2 linked regions of the Homo sapiens genome follow. The protein of the gene in region 2 interacts with the protein of the main gene of each other region in a pairwise test. Each region holds a gene or a part of one and is shown on either strand. Other genes may lie near its edges.

The links.
Region 1: the proteins of SBF1 (region 2) and AATK interact in a two-hybrid assay, tested with the Homo sapiens proteins (one study listed by BioGRID and IntAct).

The regions. Positions count from the first base shown.
Region 1 is NC_000017.11:81,120,925-81,124,731, forward strand, and holds part of AATK (serine/threonine-protein kinase LMTK1), read right to left. Parts: coding exon 3,803-3,807; intron 2,420-3,802; coding exon 2,270-2,419; intron 1,900-2,269; coding exon 1-1,899. UniProt on the Homo sapiens protein: May be involved in neuronal differentiation.
Region 2 is NC_000022.11:50,458,036-50,461,569, reverse strand, and holds part of SBF1 (myotubularin-related protein 5), read left to right. Parts: coding exon 1-47; intron 48-283; coding exon 284-411; intron 412-857; coding exon 858-1,036; intron 1,037-1,161; coding exon 1,162-1,298; intron 1,299-1,410; coding exon 1,411-1,618; intron 1,619-1,903; coding exon 1,904-2,100; intron 2,101-2,177; coding exon 2,178-2,315; intron 2,316-3,534. UniProt on the Homo sapiens protein: Acts as an adapter for the phosphatase MTMR2 to regulate MTMR2 catalytic activity and subcellular location. Promotes the exchange of GDP to GTP, converting inactive GDP-bound Rab proteins into their active GTP-bound form.

The sequences.
Region 1 (3,807 bases), on a different chromosome or scaffold from region 2:
TCAGCCTCGAGGTCTGAGAAGTAGGCAGAGTCTCGGTAGGGATTCTTCTCGTTGAGGCCACTGAGGGAGGTGGAGAGCCGTGTCTCGGGCCCGGGGCCCTCACCCTCTGAGGCCAGCTCCGCAAAGGCCTGGGGCTCACACCCTTCCTGCGCCTCCTTGAGCACAAACTCAGGGGACTCATAGTTCTCGGTGTCATAGCCACTGTCCAGCGCTCGCGGCTGCCCTCCAGAGGGGCCAGTGGCCGACGGGCTGAAGACCTCATAGCCACCATCACTGGCTGAGGACGGGATGTCCAGGGAGTCCAGGGAGTCGGGGGTCCCCACCTGCTTCTGCAGAGAGCGGAAGGCTGGCACCACATCCGGCCTCCTGGCCTGCAGGCCGTCGCTGGACGTGTCGGTGAAGATGCCTGAGGTGGCCTCGGCCGTGTCCTCATCCTCACTGCTGGGTGCCTCCACCTCGGGAGAGCTGCTGCTGCCATTCAGGGCAGAAGCCAGCTTGATGGCAGACACCTCGCCACCAGTAGCAGGCGTGGGAGAGTCAGGCAGGGCATCAGGGGCGTCGGGGGCACTGGCCTCCTCCGAGGGAAGTGGGGCTCCCTCCTGGGATGGGGAGGGGACGGAAGGAAGGGGCAGGCGGGGTCCGGTAGTGCCCTCAGCCTCCGTGGCAAGCTTGGGCTCTGCCTGCGGGTGGTCACCCCCACTACTGGCTGTCTCTGTCCAGGAGGGTGTAACCAGGCAGGGAGCAGGTGCCAGGCCCTGGGCAGAGCATAGATGAGGGAGGCCGGGGCAGCAGCCTGGCTCCTGGGCAGAGGCTGCCTGGAGCCCAAGCAGAGGCTCTCCAGGGTACCCCGGCTCGGGGGAGGCCCGTGGGGTCTGCTTTGGACTGGGGCAGCCCTCAGCGTGGCCGCCCGCAGAGACGGGGTCCCAGGACTCTGGACAGCGGCTGCCGCTGTTGTTGTTGGCTGACACGTTGGAGCGCCAGTGCCCGCGCTGGGCGGCCCTCCGCGCTCCCACCTCCTCTAGCTCATCCTCGCCAGTCAGCGGCAGCGGGGGCGCCCCTGAGCTCCCCAAAGGGGACGTGCCCAGTGGGTCCTCGAAGAAGGCAGGACAGAAGGCGGCCACGCCCCAGTCTGCATCCTCCGCTCCTCCCTCCGCCAGACTCAGGGGCCCCGCCGAGGGCGAGGGAGAGCGTGAGGGGCAGAGCGGGTCCCGCGCCAAGCTTCTGCGAGGGTAGTGGTCGCCGCGGCCCCAGGGGACGTCGACGGGTGGCCCGTGGCCCAGCAGCGGCTCCATGGCCAGCGAGGCGGCGGTGCTGCCGTCAGAGTCGTCGTCCTGGTCCGCGGTGGCAGGTGGACTGGGGGCGCAGCCGGCGCAGTCAGGGTCGTGGCCGGCGGCGGGTGCGGCCTCCTCTAGGCGGATGAAGTACTCGCTGCCCAGCGACGGGCTGTGCGCGCTGAGCACCGGAACCACGCCCGGGGGCGCGCCGTCGGGGGCGCACAGCTCCTGCAGGCGTGCGGTGCGGCCAGGGCTCAGCGTGGCCGGGAAGGCCTCCGCGCCGCGGCCCGCCTCCCACTTGTACTCAAAATTGAGGCCTCGGCTGGTCTCGGTCACCGTCAGCACGTCGTCGCCGTCCGCGTGGAAGCCGTCGCCCGCGAACTGCTCCAGCAGCGGGAAGGACGAGGCAGCGGCGAGCTCCACCACGCCGCCCAGCATGGGCCCCGCCGCACCGGGCCCGGGCCCCACGCCGCCCCCGCCGGGCCGCAGAGAGCGCCAGCGCCGTTCAAACTCCTCCTCTGCTTCGGTGGCGCCCTTGGCACACAGGTAGGACAGCAGCAGGTGCACCTCCTCGGCTGTGGGCCGCTGCTCGGGCTGCAGCCAGCAGAACTGCATCACCTCGTACCTGCGAGGAGGTCCCCCGGGGGCCACGTCAGAGGCAACGCTGGCCAGGAACGCGTCCCTGGAGCAGGGATGGGGGTTCCCCTAACTCCCAGTGTCTTGGGGGCATTAAGGGTATCTCCCACTTAATTGACACCCCAAATCTGCCAAGGCAAGCCCAGCAGCGTGGGAGCAGGAGGTGGGCTGGGCACTATCCTTAAGCCTTCCCTCCCTGTACACAGGGGTGCAGAGGTGGCGGGTGGAGGCCCTACCAGAGGGGAGGGGAGACCAGGCAGGGCTGGAACGCCAGGGGGTCAGGGTGAGCCGCCTCTGCCTGGGGATCAGGATACCCCATCTCGGCCTGGCTGTCCGGGACAGGGCAGTGGGGCCCTCACCAGCGGTCCGACAGGGTCAGCTGCAGCTGGGGCTTGGGCAGCTTGAGCTGCTGCTCCCGGACCGTGTACGCCAGCACCTGCTGGTCCGAGTGCTGGGGATAGGGCTGCGTGCCCAGCTCAAAGAGCTCCCAGATGGTCACGCCCAGGGACCTGTGGGGCGACAGCCGTGAGCCAGGGCTGGGCACAGCCTGCCACAGCAAGGACCGCGCAGGATCCCCGGGGCGCCGAATGGGGCAGCTCCCGCCATCACGCCAGTGCCTCAGGACCGGGGCCTGGTACCATACCAGCCGCCCCTCCCTGAGGACAGCGCGTCCTTTCAGCAGGCAATGTGCACCCTGCCAGGCCCAAGCCCAGCACCTGTGGAGCCTGCACATAAAGGCCGGGCTGGCCGAATCCATCTGCTTGTCCACTCATTCATTCATTCACTGATGCACTGAAGACCAGACACTGCCCGGTGTGGGAGCTGCCCTGGGGGAGCTGGAGGGCGGGCGTGGAGCCCAAAGCGGAGTAGGGCCCGCACCAGCAGGGGGCTGAGGGAGGGGGAGGGAGGGGGAAGGAAGGGGAGAGAGGGGACGCCTCAGGCCAGCATGGGCAGGGCTGGGTAACAGGCAGGGGTGCACAGAGCGTGCAGGCGGGTAGGGTAACTGGGGTCTCCTTCCCCGTGGGCTGTGGCTTCACCCAGCCACTTTGGTCCCTGGCTGTCCCAAGAGGCTGCAGAGTGAGACAGAGGTGATTTGGCAAGACGTCACCATGACCTTGGCCAGAGCCCTGTGACTGGAGACCCCAGCCAGCGTGCAGTGGGTGGGCAGGCCAGGAAGGGGCACCTTGGTGGAGAGGTGAGGAGGGGACAGTGTCCATGATGGGGCAGTCAAGTGGCTTAGGGGAGGCCCCAAAAGCTCAGGGAGGGGGCCTGGCCCGTGGGATCTGAGAGTTCCCCAGAAGCAGAAGGCGGCCAGACCAAAGCCCGGGAGTGGTGGGGGCGGTTGGGGAAGCAGCAGAGGTGAGGCAGGGAGGGGCGCCCACCCCGGGGCGGACCACTCCCCTGGCGGCTCGGCCCTGCCCCTTCCGAGTCTACACCAGGTGTGAATGAACGCTCCGGGCTAGGCACTCAGGATAGGGGCTTCCAGGCTGCGGCCGTGGGAGATCCCAGCACCACCGTCAGCCCCTCTGCCTGGCACGGCCCGACCTACGCTCCCGTGAAGGCAGCCAACACCCCACCCAGACCCTCTCCCCAGGGACAGGTACTCACCAAGGCCCCCGTCTCAGGACAGACCCCCCGGCATGCTGAAGACGGGCCGTTGGCCCTGTACGTATGCCTTGACCCCACCATGGGGTCCCTGGGGCACCCTGTCAGGGTGGTATCTCCCCCGGTGTGGGGTCGCCACCCAACCAGCCACTTGGGCTGCTGGCGTGTGGCCACTACAGGTGGCTCCGGCAGCCCCCTGACCTCACTACTCATGGCCATGATTTGACATGGGTGGGCAGGTGGCACTCGGCCTCGGCCCCTCACGGTGCCACCAGGGCCGCACTCACCACAC
Region 2 (3,534 bases):
CACCACGTACCGGGTCATCTTCACGGGGATGCCCACGGACCCCCTGGGTGAGCCTGCAGACTCTCTGGCCCTGTCGCCCCCTCTCCCCCAGGTCTTTGGGATGGATGGGCTTTCCCTGCCTCCCTCTCCCTTTTCTCGGGGGTTCTGGGTGCCCGTGGGAAACGGGCCTTTGTCTGCTCCTTCCCCACCCACTTGGGATTCCCCATAACTGTGGTACCCTGAGATTCTGGGACCCCCCCCCCCTTACCTTCCTTGCTTCTGACTCTGCCTGGCCTGTCCTAAGTTGGGGAGCAGGTGGTGGTCCGCTCCTTCCCGGTGGCTGCGCTGACCAAGGAGAAGCGCATCAGCGTCCAGACCCCTGTGGACCAGCTCCTGCAGGACGGGCTCCAGCTGCGCTCCTGCACATTCCAGGTGGGGCGCGGTGCGCGGGTGGGGCTCTCATCCCCCGCCCTGGTCTTTCTCCTGCAAACCGGTCTTTCTTGTATGAACCATTTTTAGGCCAGTCTCCAGCAGTGGCCCTGTTGTTACGCTTGCATGTCTGGGGCCCTCACTGTGGCTCTTGAGTTGATGTCCACTGTTTGATGTGCGGTCTTTGGGTCCTTGTCCTTTCCTTGGGGCGCCGGCCCTCAAGTCCGTGTCTTGGGTGTGCCTTGCAAACCCAGGCCTCAGCTCACAGCCACTGAGATTTCGAGTTTACACAAGCGCTTGCCTTCGTGTGACACAGATACAGGCCTTTGCCTGGGGCCTGCTTCTCTCTCTGTCATGGCTGCGAGGGGAAGGGGAGCCTGGCAGTGTCAGAGTTGGGGGAGGGGCTGGGGGGCCACCCACACCCCTAAGGGCTGCTTTTACTGACACAGCTGCTGAAAATGGCCTTTGACGAGGAGGTGGGGTCTGACAGCGCCGAGCTCTTCCGTAAGCAGCTGCATAAGCTGCGGTACCCGCCGGACATCAGGGCCACCTTTGCGTTCACCTTGGGCTCTGCCCACACACCTGGCCGGCCACCGCGAGTCACCAAGGACAAGGGTCCTTCCCTCAGGTATGGATCTGGGTCCCAGGCAGGGCAGCTGGGCCTCAGCCGTGTTCCCGCTCCAACCCTCCTAGGCCCCTGTGCTCATCTTTGTCCCTCCTCCTCTCACCTTTGCTGACTCTCGTGGGCCTCAGAACCCTGTCCCGGAACCTGGTCAAGAACGCCAAGAAGACCATCGGGCGGCAGCATGTCACTCGCAAGAAGTACAACCCCCCCAGCTGGGAGCACCGGGGCCAGCCGCCCCCTGAGGACCAGGAGGACGAGATCTCAGGTGGAGGGGTGGGGGTGGAGTCCTGGGTGGTCTCTGGATGCTGACATTGGCCAGGGAGGATCAGGGCAGGCGGAGTGGCCCCGTGATGACCACGTGTGCCCGGCCTGTGCAGTGTCGGAGGAGCTGGAGCCCAGCACGCTGACCCCGTCCTCAGCCCTGAAGCCCTCCGACCGCATGACCATGAGCAGCCTGGTGGAAAGGGCTTGCTGTCGCGACTACCAGCGCCTCGGTCTGGGCACCCTGAGCAGCAGCCTGAGCCGGGCCAAGTCTGAGCCCTTCCGCATTTCTCCGGTCAACCGCATGTATGCCATCTGCCGCAGGTGAGGGCCGGCCAGGGCTGGCCCGGGTGGTGGACACGTGACTGGGTGTCTTCCCTGCCCGCTGTGGGCCTGGGCCACGGCTTCTGGTCATGTAAGGAATGTGGAGGGGGAGACTCCGGGCAGAGGGACGGGCCACAGGGCTGGGGGGTGGCTGGGGGGCCCCGTGGCTGAGCTGGAAGCGCCTCCTGCTGGGAGCCATGGGCTGGCTCCTCTTGCCCTGCTTGGGGCGTGAGCCTGGAGGCGGGTGGGGTCGCCAGCCACCTTCACGCCTCTGCCTCCTCTCAGCTACCCAGGGCTGCTGATCGTGCCCCAGAGTGTCCAGGACAACGCCCTGCAGCGCGTGTCCCGCTGCTACCGCCAGAACCGCTTCCCCGTGGTCTGCTGGCGCAGCGGGCGGTCCAAGGCGGTGCTGCTGCGCTCTGGAGGCCTGCATGGCAAAGGTGTCGTCGGCCTCTTCAAGGCCCAGAACGCACCTTCTCCAGGTACCTCCTGCGTCCTGCCCTGTGCCTGCCCTGCCCTATCTCACCCTCCCCTCCCTCAGCTCCGTGTCCTCCCCCAGGCCAGTCCCAGGCGGACTCGAGTAGCCTGGAGCAGGAGAAGTACCTGCAGGCTGTGGTCAGCTCCATGCCCCGCTACGCCGACGCGTCGGGACGCAACACGCTTAGCGGCTTCTCCTCAGCCCACATGGGCAGTCACGGTGAGGGTGCTTGTGGGCAGACGGTGGGGCAGGGGCACTTTGGGGGGCCGTGGTGGCATTTATGGTTTGGCAGGCAGGCCAGGGAGGAGCAGAAACGGCGCTGGTCATGGATGTTTGGGTGTGGGATGAGGAGCATGCCCTCCGGGTGCCGTGGGGCAGGGGCGGGAAGCCTGTCCAGACCAAGTGTGTGCCCAGACCAGGTGTGTGCCCTGACCTCCTGCCCGCCCTGACGTCCTGCCCGCTCTCCACCTCTGCGTCTGCTGCAGCTTCCTGTAGGGTCCTCCGGGTGCTGCCTCTACGCGGCTCTGTCTTACCATTTCCCACAGCCTGGAAACATCCCAGATGCTCCTCTGTCCTGTTCCCTCCCAGTGTCACTGTTTTTCCTCATCCCCCACACTCCACCCTCCCTGCATCCCCCAATCCAGACTGTCTTTGGAGCCTCTGGCCTGGCTCTGCCTGCAGCTTGGCCTCTGTCCTCGTGTGTCCTGGTTCCTTGGGCCTTGCCCGAGCTGGCCTTGCTGTCTCTGTCCCCACCGCCACGCACACTTCACAGGCGCCCTGCACACACTGAGCTAGACTGGCCCCAGGACGGGGTGGCAGATAGGCCCCACACTCACTCCTGTGTCCGGACCACCTGTTCTCTAGTTCAGAAGTGGTTTTGTTTTTCCAGATACCACATTATATACTTACATTTTACAATCGCCCTGTCTTGCTGCCTTCCCACCCCTGCCAGAAACCCTGAGTGGCATTTGCAGGTGGGGCCGCCCCTGCACCCCCCATGCCTGTGCTTCCCACAGAGTCCCTTTTGCGTCTCCGACCATCCCCAGTGCCAGTGGCTGCTGCCTCCCCGTGTCCCCCTCAGTGCCCAGCAATGCTCAGGGGCTCAAGCTTCACTCAGCTGTAGTCGTGGCTTCTAGTCCCAGCCCTGACCTTTTTTTTTTTTTTTTTTTGAGTCGGAGTCTTTCTCTGTCACCCACGCTGGAGTGCGGTGGTGCGATCTCGGCTCACTGCAAGCTCCACCTCCCAGGTTCACGCCATTCTCCTGCCTCAGCCTCCCGAGTAGCTGGGACTACAGGTGCCCGCCACCGCGCCCGGCTGATTTTTTTGTATTGTATTTTTAGTAGAGACAGGGTTTTACCGTGTTAGCCAGGATGATCTCGATCTCCTGACCTGGTGATCCGCCCGCCTCGGCCTCCCAAAGTGCTGGGATTACAGGCGT